Homo sapiens: one gene and its partners. The protein of the gene in region 3 purifies or fractionates together with the protein of the main gene of each other region. This does not show direct contact. Each region holds a gene or a part of one and is shown on either strand. Other genes may lie near its edges. The genes, in order: ACP6, UNG and SLC25A25.

Region 1 (3,748 bases), on a different chromosome or scaffold from region 3:
TAGGTCACTTCCATCAACATCTTGCATTTGGTTGGTGTTGGCCAGCTTCTTTACCACTTCCTGTTTTATCAGCAGGGTCTTTTTGACTGGTTTCTTGTGATACCAGTCCTGCTGACCTCCCCCCTCATCCTGTGACTGAGAATGCCTAACCTCCTGGGAATGCAGCCCAGTAGGTCTCAGCCTCATTTTACCCAGCCGCTATTCAAGATGGAGTCACTATGGTTCAAATGCCTCTGACAGAATCACCTTCTAAAAGTCCTATGTCCAAATGCAGTCACTTAGTGGGTACGAATTTGGCGGGGGACACAACTGAGTCCATAGCAAACAGTATTCGATTTTTAATCACATCAGCACACACAATAAGACTCTGAAAAGTGAGTCCCTTGGCTGGGCTAGGGAGAAAATTGTGACAATATGTAGTGTTCCAAAATGACCCTCCTCCCTGCATCAGGGAGGGGAGCACTCAGAACCTTCCAGCTTGGTGAACAGAATTTGTTCTCAGGCCAGGAGCCATGCTCTGTAAGTATGTTGTCTTTACATCTGGCCCAGTTTGATCTTTGGAGATAGACACATAGTGGGTCCCAGATTGTGTCCTGTTGCAAAGATCTGGAAACACAGGCTTGGGATACCTGTATATCAACAGAAACCAGACTAGCAGGTGGTAAGGCTGGCATTGTTCTGTGTTCTTAGGTTTTTTTTTGTTTTTTTTTTGTAGACGGAGTCTTGCGCTGTTGCCCAAGCTGGAGTCGTGTGGCGCGATCTCGGCTCACTGCAAGCTCCGCCTCCCGGGTTCACGCCATTCTCCTGCCTCAGCCTCCTGAGTAGCTGGGACTACAGGTGCCCGCCACCACGCCTGGCTAATTTTTTTTTTTTTTTTTTTTTGTATTTTTAGTAGAGACGTGGTTTCACCGTGTTAGCCAGGATGGTCTCGATCTCCTGACCTCATGATCTACCCGCCTCGGCCTCCCAAAGTGCTGGGATTACAGGCGTGAGCCATGGCGCCTCTTAGGTTCTTAATCACTGGGACACCCACAGGCAAGGCCTGGCTTTTTCCACAAGAAGTATTCTGGATGGAAGTAAACACATCAGTGACCTGAAAGTTCTACATGATTACAATGACTTAAGCTTGAGAATTTTTTTAAAAACAGAGAAGGGAGTAGTAAATGACTAAATATAAAGCACCTAGTGCTGTGTTTCGCAAATGGCAATCACTCGGCAGGTGTCTCAGCTCCTCGCTGCAGCAACCAGGCTTCCAGGACTGGAAGGAAGTCTTCTACATTCAAAACTAGACTCAAACTACTCCCCTCCACCACCCAGTTCTACTCCTGCGCTCGCGATCCTCCTGCCTGGCAAACTCCATGGCCCGACAGATTCACTACCACTCCACTGCCGGACCAGGCACGTCCGTGGGCCATCCACGCCTGGAAAACGGCTGGCTGGGCCGGAGGGGCGAGGCCCGCAGGCGAGGGGGGCGGGTACAAGCCACTTCTTGGGAGCCGCGGTACGCGCAGCCTTGTGGGAGTTGTAGTTTCCGCAGCTCTGAGTCTCCAGGCGAGGTGTCACCACAGGACTCGTTTTCCCGTGCTCCTGTGCGCGGGTCCACTTGGGACGGGTCCCTGAGTAGGTGAGGAGGTGGGTAGGAGCTTGCTTATAGAAAAGTGGAATCGAGTAGTCCTTGCTGGTGGAGCCGCTGCCGCCAGGGAACTCAGGGCCGGCTCCTGTTCCTTCAAGAGTGCTGGAGGCCAAACTTGAAATACAAGTTTAATGTTCCTCGTCGGGCAAAAGATAAGGATCCGATCTCCCCCGGCCCGGTGTGCAGCAGGAGCGACCAACCCCGACCCGGGTTAAAACTCCCAGGGACTCTTCGCTGCTGCCACCTCTTGTTCTCTCCCCCGTTCCCACTCGGGGTCTCCCTCAGGGCCGGGAGGCACAGCGGTCCCTGCTTGCTGAAGGGCTGGATGTACGCATCCGCAGGTTCCCGCGGACTTGGGGGCGCCCGCTGAGCCCCGGCGCCCGCAGAAGACTTGTGTTTGCCTCCTGCAGCCTCAACCCGGAGGGCAGCGAGGGCCTACCACCATGATCACTGGTGTGTTCAGCATGCGCTTGTGGACCCCAGTGGGCGTCCTGACCTCGCTGGCGTACTGCCTGCACCAGCGGCGGGTGGCCCTGGCCGAGCTGCAGGAGGCCGATGGCCAGTGTCCGGTCGACCGCAGCCTGCTGAAGTTGAAAATGGTGCAGGTCGTGTTTCGACACGGGGCTCGGAGTCCTCTCAAGCCGCTCCCGCTGGAGGAGCAGGTGAGAGGTCGGCCCGGGCTGGGGCTGGTGGGGCGAGGACCGTGTGCCAGGCCAGGAGTCTCGCCCTGACACACATCTTCAGAGCTTTACTCGCGCGGAGCGGGGCTCGGGTTGGGTCCAGAAGAAGGGAAAACAGCAGTAGCCAGTGACTCCCCAGGCTCTTGAGCAAAGGACCTGCTGGGGTTAGGACAGCCCCGGAACTTCCAGTTTTGCCCTGATGGCGCAGCCATCAGTAAGCGCTGCTTAAGACGCATGGGAGTCGCCTGGGGATCCTGCTACGTTGCAGATTCTGATTCAGCAGGTGTGGAGTAGTGCCCCAGGTCAGCATTTCTATTAAGGGTCTAGGTGAACTTGAATACAAGGGTGCAGTGCACTTCTGTGTGACCATTTTGAAGGTGGTTTGTCAGAGCTGAAGGGCTGAAGGGACTTTAGTGATAGGAACCACTCTTAACTGAGATTACAGTGGATAAGAGGTCGTTGCCTTTGGAAACAAACTTTATAACTGCTTTTTCTCAGGGTTTGCTGGAGGCCATTTGAGATCTCCTGAAGTTTTTTTTTGTAACAAGTGTTGTATTCTAGGGTTCTCCTTTTCTATTTAAGGTTACTAAACCTATAGTGGGAGGGATCTGAGGTCGGAACAAATTTAAAATGGGCTAGTCTGTGGCAGTAATGTTTTAAAAATCTGTCTGGTTTTGTCAGGATAATTATGACTAAAGCACAAATAGTTTAAAAAAAAATGATTATCTTTCCTGGATGTGACTTTTTATAGCAGAAAGGCCTAGTGAAGAGGAACAGGCAACCTGAAATCCCCAAACTCCCAGGTATTACACCTGTGGAGTGCTTTTGTATCGTTGGTCTTCCAGGTTGATGTTGGAGGAGGTCGAAAAGATTGTCCAAAATTGATGTTAGGTATACTCTTCATAATAACAGTTGCTTTCTAGAAACCTTCAGGATTGTGTCTTTACATTGTACAACTGGAAACCCATTTTTCAAGGTTGGCCGCACATGAAATTAAACTTCTAAAGCATTTTCCACATAAATAAATACATTTGGAAGGCACTTAATTCTATTACCAGGTTTCTAGTTAGCCTTACTCTGGCTTTACCACTTGCTCTCTGGAACCGGGATTTCTTCTTTCATTTTGATTCTTTGATTTTTTTTTCAGTCTCTTACTTTGCCTTTTTATATTAGATCACTAAATTTTCCTTATGATTTTGTATACAGCCCATCTCTGATGCTCCCCTTCCCCCAATTCTTCTCTATTTATTCTTGGTACAGAAGGACTGGGGAATCACATGTAGGAATATATATTATATTCACGTAGAAGACAAAAAATTATCAGTGGTAATGGAGAGTAAAACTTTGAATGTGTAGGCCTAGACCTAGTATGTACCATATATATATATATATATATCCTGAAGGCACTAGGAAAAGATTTAGATTCTTTTAGGGC
Region 2 (3,648 bases), on a different chromosome or scaffold from region 3:
AAGAAACTCCGTCTCTACTAAAAATACAAAATTAGCTGGATGTGGTGGTACATGCCTGTAATCCCAGCTACTCAGGAGGCTGAGGCAGGAGAATCACTTGAACCCAGGAGGGGGAGGCTGCAGTGAACTGAGATCACGCCATTGCACTCCAGCCTGGGCAACAAGAGTGAAACTGTCTCAGAAAAAAAAAAAAAAAAAAAAAAAAGAGGAATAGTCAGTGGCCAGGTGTGGTAGCTCACGCCTGTAATCCCAGCACTTTGGGAGGCCGAGGCAGGAGGATCGTTTAAGTCCAGGAGTTCAAGAGCCAGCCTGGGCAACGTGGTGAAACCCTGTCTCCACAAAAAAAAATACAAAAATTAGCCAGGTGTGGTGGCGCACGCCTGTGGTCCCTGCTACTCAGGTGACTAAGGTGGGAGGATTGCTTGAGCCTGGGAGGTTGAGGCCGCAGTGAGTTGAGATCAAGCCAGTGCATTCCAGCCTGGGTGACAGAGCTAGACCCTGTTTCAAAAGAAAAAAAGCAATAGTCATACATCACCTAATGACAGGGATGCATTCTGAGAAGTGTGTTGTTAGGCAATTTCACTGCTATCCGTACACCACAGGGCATCTTTACACAAACCCAAATGGGATAACCTACCACTACACACCTAGGCTATATAGTGTAGCTTATTGCTCCTGGTCTACAAACCTGTGTAGCATGTTACTGTACTAAATACTATAGGCAACTGTGACACAATGGTAGGCATTTGTGTATCTAAACATAGAAAAGATGCAGTAAAAATATTTTTTATATATATATATATACACATATATATATACGTATATATATATGTGTATATATATATATGTTTTTTTTTTGAGATAGAGTCTCACTCTGTTGCCAGGCTGGAGTGCAGTGGCATGATCTCAGCTAACTGCAACCTCTGCCTCCCAAGTAGCTGGGACTACAGGCACACGCCGCCACACCTGGCTAATTTTTTGTATTTTAGTAGAGACAGGGTTTCACTATGTTGCCCAGGCTGGTCTCAAACTCCTGAGCTCAGACAATCCACTCGCCTCGGCCACCCAAAGTGCTGGGATAACAGGTATGAGCCACCACACCCGGCCAGAATATTATAATCTTATGGGACCATCGTCATATATACAGTTTATGACTGAAACATCATTATGTGGCAAATGACTACTTTGATTTTTTTAAAATATCAACTATAGTTATTTTAACAGGGAGATATAGACCATTTTTGTTTTCCTCTTCTTTTCTGTATATAAAAACTAACGAACAAATCACTGTTTCTCAAAACACTCTTGCCTTCAAGGGGCTCAGTCCAGGAGGGGCGATGAGGGGTGAGGACTAAAGCCAGGCAATCCAGTGTGGTTAAGAGTACAGAGCCTGGAGCCAGACTGCCCGGGGTCGAGGCCTACCTCTACCCTCAGTAGCTGTACCACAGAGAAGTTGCTGCAACTCTAAGCTGCTTCAGTTTTCATCTGTAGACTGGGAATAACAATACCGCCCAGCTTATGAAGTTACTGTGACCAATCAAATGAGGATCACAGGGGCTGAGTGTGATAAGAAGTCATGCACACCAAATGCTGAACACACACGCAAGCAGCACAGGCCCCTGTAAATGTCAGCCCTGCAGAGCTCTAAAGAATCCCAGAAGAAAATGACCTCTACACTGTAGGCAGAGAAAGCAGGATATGCAAAGGCAGGGAAGTGGGGCACCGTGAAAAAGTAAAGGGGAATGGGTCAGCCTAGGGATCGGAGTGCAAAGAGGGATAGAGTTAAGTCTGGGAGGCCGATTGGGGGCCACCCCTCTACCCCCCTGAAATCAGATCTTCAGCCTAAGGCAAGGCCTTCCAGGGAGAAAGCATCAGAACCCTCCAGGCAAGATCAGGTGAGGGCCTGAATGAAGGCAAAGGTGGTCAGGCAGGGGTAGATTTGGAGGGGGAAGAAAGAACACAGATATGAATGACTGACTGACTGGGAAGGTGGAAAAAAAGGACAGAAGAGGGGAGAAAGAGAGGTAGGCAGGTGTCAGTAATAGATCTGGCTGGACAACTGGGCAGATGATGGTGCTTTTTGCTGCTAGGGAGTGCAGAGGAGGAAGTTTAGTGAAGCATGGATGAGAAAAGGAGAAACTTCGTTTGGAAAATGTTGAATTTGGCATGTTCATGGGGCAGTAGTAACAAGGCACTCTATAGATCAGAAGAGACACTGGGCTGGAGATATGCAATTTGGCTTTAATGACCAAGCTACTTTAACAACTGTTTACTTTCAGACCAAACCATGATTAAAGATTACCAATATACTGCGGAAGAGCAACACTGGCCGTAAACCTCCCTAAGGGATAGAGATTAGCAATTACTCTCACGCACACTTCTTACATACCTAGATGATCACATCTTAGCAGTTCATACCAGTCAGATCTTAGGTCACTCATACAAGTGTATGCCTACCTCAAAGCCTTTCTGAGAGTTAAGTAAGATTCTGCATGCAAAGTACTCAACCTGGTCGGGTGCGGTGGCTTACATCTGTAATCCTAGCACTTTGGGAGACCAAGATGGGAGGATCGCTTGAGGTCAGGAGTTCAAGACCAGCCTTGTCAACATGGTGAAACCCAGTCTCTACTAAAAATAAAAAATATTAGCTGGGTGTGGTGGCAGGCAACTGTAATCCTAGCTACTCAGGAGGCTGAGGCAGGAGAAGTGCTTGAACCCAGGAGGCGAAGTTGCAGTGAGCCGAGATCATGCCACTGCACTCCAGCCTGGGTGACAGAAAGACTCCATCTCAAAAAACAAAAGTGCTCAACCTAGTACCCACACAAGGTAGGGGTTAAATATACGTGCACATTTCTGATACCCCCGTTACCTCCTGCTGATACACCAAAAACTATTGTCAGGTTACCTCTGCTAAGCCCTTGCCTTCGATCATTGAAGCATTTACTCTATAATTTCTCCCCCACCCAATGTCTCTCCCATTTGCCAGGGATGAACACACCCCTGGCTCGTCTCCTTCCCACCCCCTATCTCTCCCTCCTCCACTCTGCGGCTCTCCATCAAGCCTCCATCTCTAGTCCATCACGGTTCTCCTGGAGAAAGATGATGGTGACTCATGCCTGAAGGGCAGCAGTGGCGAATGAGAAGCAGTAGACTGGGGTGTTTTGGGAGGCAGAGTTGATGGGATTTACTGATGGGATGGAGGATTCAAGGATGACTTTTAGGTCTCTGATTTCCACAACCAGGTGTAGAAGTGCTTCAGTGAGTGAAGGGAAAGAGGGAGGTAGCAGATAGGGGGAAGATGTAGGGAGGGGAGCCACTGGTTTGGTCGTGTTGGGTATCTGCAATTAGACCTTGGGGTTAATAATGATCACCGATAGGCCGGGTGTGGTGGCTCATGCCTGTAATCCTAGCACTTTGGAGGTTGAGGAGGACAGATCGCTTGAGGTCAGGAGTTCAAAACCAGCCTGGCCAACATGGTGAAACCCTGTCTCTACTAAAAAATAAAAAAAAATCAGCCGGGTGTGGTGGCGGGCGCCTGTAGTCCCAGCTACTCGGGAGGCTGAGGCAGAATCACTTAAACCCAGCAGGCGGAGGTTGCAGTGAGCCAAAATCATACCACTGCACTACAGCCTGGGCAACAGAGCGAGA
Region 3 (3,662 bases):
TGCGGGTGGGGCTGACGGTATTTGCTGGTGGACTGCCCTGGAACCAGAGGGAAGTACAGAGTCAGGTTGACTACAAGGTGTTTGGCTTAAGTTCGTAGAAGAAAGGAGTTGCCATTTGCTGGCATGAGGAAAATGAAGAAGCAGATTTTGGGAGGAAAATGAAGGGTTCGGCTTCTGACATGCTGAACTCGAGGTGCTGTTTAAGTGGATGTGGATTTCACAGTTGTACTGATGAAGCTGGAATTCGTTCAAGTATCAAAGGAGTGTCATCTAAATATAGATATTGAAGGTAATCCTCAGTCAGATGAGGTTACTGAGAGGGTGTGAGGAGGCAGGAGCGGGGTGAGGCTGGGAGGGGCAGCTGGGGGGAGGGGAGAGAAGCCCAGCGACGTCCTCGGTGTCTGTGAAGATGGCACTTCCGGCGGAGGGAGAGATCCCCCGCACCCTGCCTGAGACAGGCTGAGGAACGACCCTACACAGCAACTCAGGGCACCCCAAATCGAACACGCAACCATTAAAGAGGGAGCGCCTCTAAGAAGCCGAAAGGGGGCACCACCAGGCTCCAGAGGGGAAAACAGGGCGCATTTTCTAACATGTCAGCACCCCCAGACCACCCAGGCCCCCGTCAGAAAAATACTGGCTCCATGATCAGCTTTGAAACAACTTTATTAGAAGGCTGCTTTAAATGACAACTTCTAACGTCCAATTCTTTCTTAATTTGCTTTTTGACGACTCCAGTTATATGTTCATATATAACAATTTTTGCATTGATCTTTGCATCCTATTGAAGATTTCCTCATCAGGTCATTCTGGTGGAATGGAAGTGCAACCGTGAGGTCGCCAGTTGGCCGGCATTGTTAAGCAAGGGCAGCAGAAGGCTGGGAGGGACGGAGCCAGTCCCCCACCCTCTCCTCCAGCCCCCGCCCACCACAAATTCACAGTGAGAGGCACCTCACTGCCTTGACATTCAGAAAAGAGTGAAATAAAGAAACCCTCGCAGCGCAGGAAATAACTGGATTCCACCTTCAAGGTTATTGAGGTTCCTCCCTCTCTCTCCACGCCCCCAGTCAAACCCTGAAATCCTAAGGCTGGGGGCAAGCCCTTCCCCAACCTGCCAAAGGAAAGGAGCCAGGGCTGCTGCCTTCTGGCCGCTTTTCTGCCTCCAGTCCCAAAAGGAATTTCTCTGGACAGATGTGACTGCAGCGGCCCAAGGCCCCCCTTCTCCTCCTCCTCCCATCCCACTGGGCGGGCTTGGGAAGGTACAATCAACCATGAACATAAATATGAATAAAAAATGAACTTGAAAATGACAAGCTATTAATTAAACAAATCTATAAAAATAGTTAGGACATAACTCTGTTCAAATAAATACAAAATAAATAGGTTCCAAGCAGTGACACAAGTGGAATGTGGGGCTGGTCCCGCTGCGCCCCTGCTGGGGTTGGACAGGAACCCCCAGGGCGTCAGAACAGACTCTGAGCAGTCAGCCAAGCTCCTGCTCCCTCGTCTTCCTCTGGAAGCACAGAAGTCGCTCATTTGTCCGGCTTGTCCTTCTGGACAAAACCCTTTTCCCAACAGTCCATAATTAAGGCCTCCAACACCTTTTCCTTCCCTCCCCAGAACACACAAACGCTCTGCCCTTCGCCCTCAAACATGGTGCTCCACTGCCCTCATGCCACAGTGGGGACAGTGAGTTTGGTTCTGAGGTGGGGCCCATCCTGACAGGGTCCAGGCCAGCTCAGAGCACCATGAGCCCCAGCACTTGCCTTCTGTGCAGCCAGGCCAGGCAGCCCGAGCCCCCTGCACTCCCAAGCATGCCCGAGAGCCCCAGCCATCAGCAGGGCTCAGATGCCAGTGACCACAAGGCCAGATCCTTTCCTCTTCCTTCACAGCCAAGTTGGCGTCAATGCTGTAGGTTGGGAAGTCAGGCCTGGGAGGCCACGTGACCTCACCTTTCATCATGGATTATGGGATTGGACGAGGGGGTGGGATGTGGGCTGTAGCCCTCCTCCCACCTTACCTCAGCAGACAGGCAGGCAGCAAGAGGGCACAGGGAGATGCACGGCAGACCAGAGGGCAGGGGCCGTGGCCAACAGCTGGCTGCAAGGGTGAAATGGAAGAACTAAGCCGGCCTCCAGGCTCCAAGCTCGCTATTGGCAGGCACTGCAGAAAATGTCCTGTCCTTACACATGTGAGCCCGGAGCCTGCTGACCCTGGACCCTAAGGAATGCCTGTGGTCTTCGCTGGAACCAACAGGAGGGTCTGCTGGGGTCAGCAGGACAAGCCCTGGGCCTGCCAGCTCTCCCCACCCTCCCTGCGGGTGCGTCTAGGGTTTTCACAGCTTGGCTCGAGACAGCTTAGTGTTGGCACATTCACAGAATGAGATGGCTGCACACCCCAGGCTGCGGCCCAGGATCAGCGAGTCCACTGCCGGGCGGCCCTCCCCCCGTCACCGCGACTGCACGCCCAGGGTGATCTTCAGGTTCTCGTAGACCACGTAGCTGATGCTCACAGCTGGGATGACCTTCATGAAGTTGGGGGCCAGCCCCCTGTACAGCCCGAAGGCCCCCTCGGTCCGCAGGATATGTTTGAAGAGGCTGCTCATGGTCACCTCCGGAGCGCCCTCAATAGAGGCTGCAGGATGGAGGCCACCAGTCAGATGCTTCTGTCCGCTCCCCCCGACCTCCCAGGGGACTGTCCAGGGCCAGCCTTACCTTGCGCCTGCATCCGGGTCCTGACTAGGGCCAGGGGGTAGCTGGCCAGCTGGCCACAGGTACTGGACATGGTGCCACAGGCCAGGAGCACAAACACGCCGGGGTCCGCGCTGTTCACTGCATAGTGCTGCAGCCAGGCATTCTTGAGCGTCTAGAAGGAGAAGGGAGCATGGGATAAGCCCTAGGAAGGGCTAGTGAGGCAGCAAGAGACGGGGCTGTTACTGGGTCCTCAGGCCACTGGAACCCGACTGCCGCGCCTGGGGCCTGGCTGGGCTCCTAGCCTGGCTGCCCTGTTTCTGCTGTCACTGGGAATTCCGGGACAAGGTAGAGGGAACACCTCCTTCCCCACACAGAAGGGCTGACTTCTGGGGTCTGTCTAGAGTGTGCTGGGGCCTGTGAGCTCCTGGGGGCCACCCTGCTCTGGGGATCTGCCTGCTGAGCCTCTGGGGATGCAGAGCCTGGGTGCAGGGCTCACAGGAGCTGCTGGGGTCTGCCAGGGGCAGGCAGGGTGAAGGAAAGCTGCAGTAAACAGAAGAGCAGGAAGGAGGCGCAGTCTTTGATGCAGTTTCCTGCACTAACCACGCGTCCGTCAAGGAGGGAGACAGCAGGTGGAGGTGTGCTGGGAGGAGGTTTCTAAATCTGTCCAGCTTGGGCCTCACCTCGTAGACTGCAAGGTCGATGCCGGCATAGGGGATGATGCCCAGCATGTTGGGGACATAGCCTTTGTAGAAGGCGGCCACCCCCTCTCTGGCCAGGATCCTCCTGGCGCAGTCCAGCATTCCTGAGTACTGGCCTGTCTTCCGCAGCGCCATCCGGGTCTTCAGGACCTGCACAACAGGAGCAGCGGGACGCGTGAGCACAGCCTGTGCCTCTCCCCAGTCCTGTGCCCACTGCCCGCCCCAGGACCCAGGCGGCCCCTCACCTCCATTGGGTAGATGCTGCTCTGGG

What was found.
Region 1: the proteins of SLC25A25 (region 3) and ACP6 purify together in Homo sapiens (affinity purification with mass spectrometry; one large-scale study listed by BioGRID and IntAct). This does not show direct contact.
Region 2: the proteins of SLC25A25 (region 3) and UNG purify together in Homo sapiens (affinity purification with mass spectrometry; one large-scale study listed by BioGRID and IntAct). This does not show direct contact.

The regions. Positions count from the first base shown.
Region 1 is NC_000001.11:147,668,377-147,672,124, reverse strand, and holds the start of ACP6 (lysophosphatidic acid phosphatase type 6), read left to right. Parts: upstream 1-1,600; 5' UTR 1,601-2,076; coding exon 2,077-2,295; exon of another isoform or gene 2,296-2,615; intron 2,616-3,748. UniProt on the Homo sapiens protein: Hydrolyzes lysophosphatidic acid (LPA) containing a medium length fatty acid chain to the corresponding monoacylglycerol.
Region 2 is NC_000012.12:109,104,076-109,107,723, reverse strand, and holds part of UNG (uracil-DNA glycosylase), read right to left. Parts: intron 1-3,648. UniProt on the Homo sapiens protein: Uracil-DNA glycosylase that hydrolyzes the N-glycosidic bond between uracil and deoxyribose in single- and double-stranded DNA (ssDNA and dsDNA) to release a free uracil residue and form an abasic (apurinic/apyrimidinic; AP) site.
Region 3 is NC_000009.12:128,106,232-128,109,893, reverse strand, and holds the end of SLC25A25 (mitochondrial adenyl nucleotide antiporter SLC25A25), read right to left. Parts: coding exon 3,637-3,662; intron 3,542-3,636; coding exon 3,374-3,541; intron 2,866-3,373; coding exon 2,715-2,865; intron 2,635-2,714; coding exon 2,450-2,634; 3' UTR 649-2,449; downstream 1-648. UniProt on the Homo sapiens protein: Electroneutral antiporter that most probably mediates the transport of adenyl nucleotides through the inner mitochondrial membrane.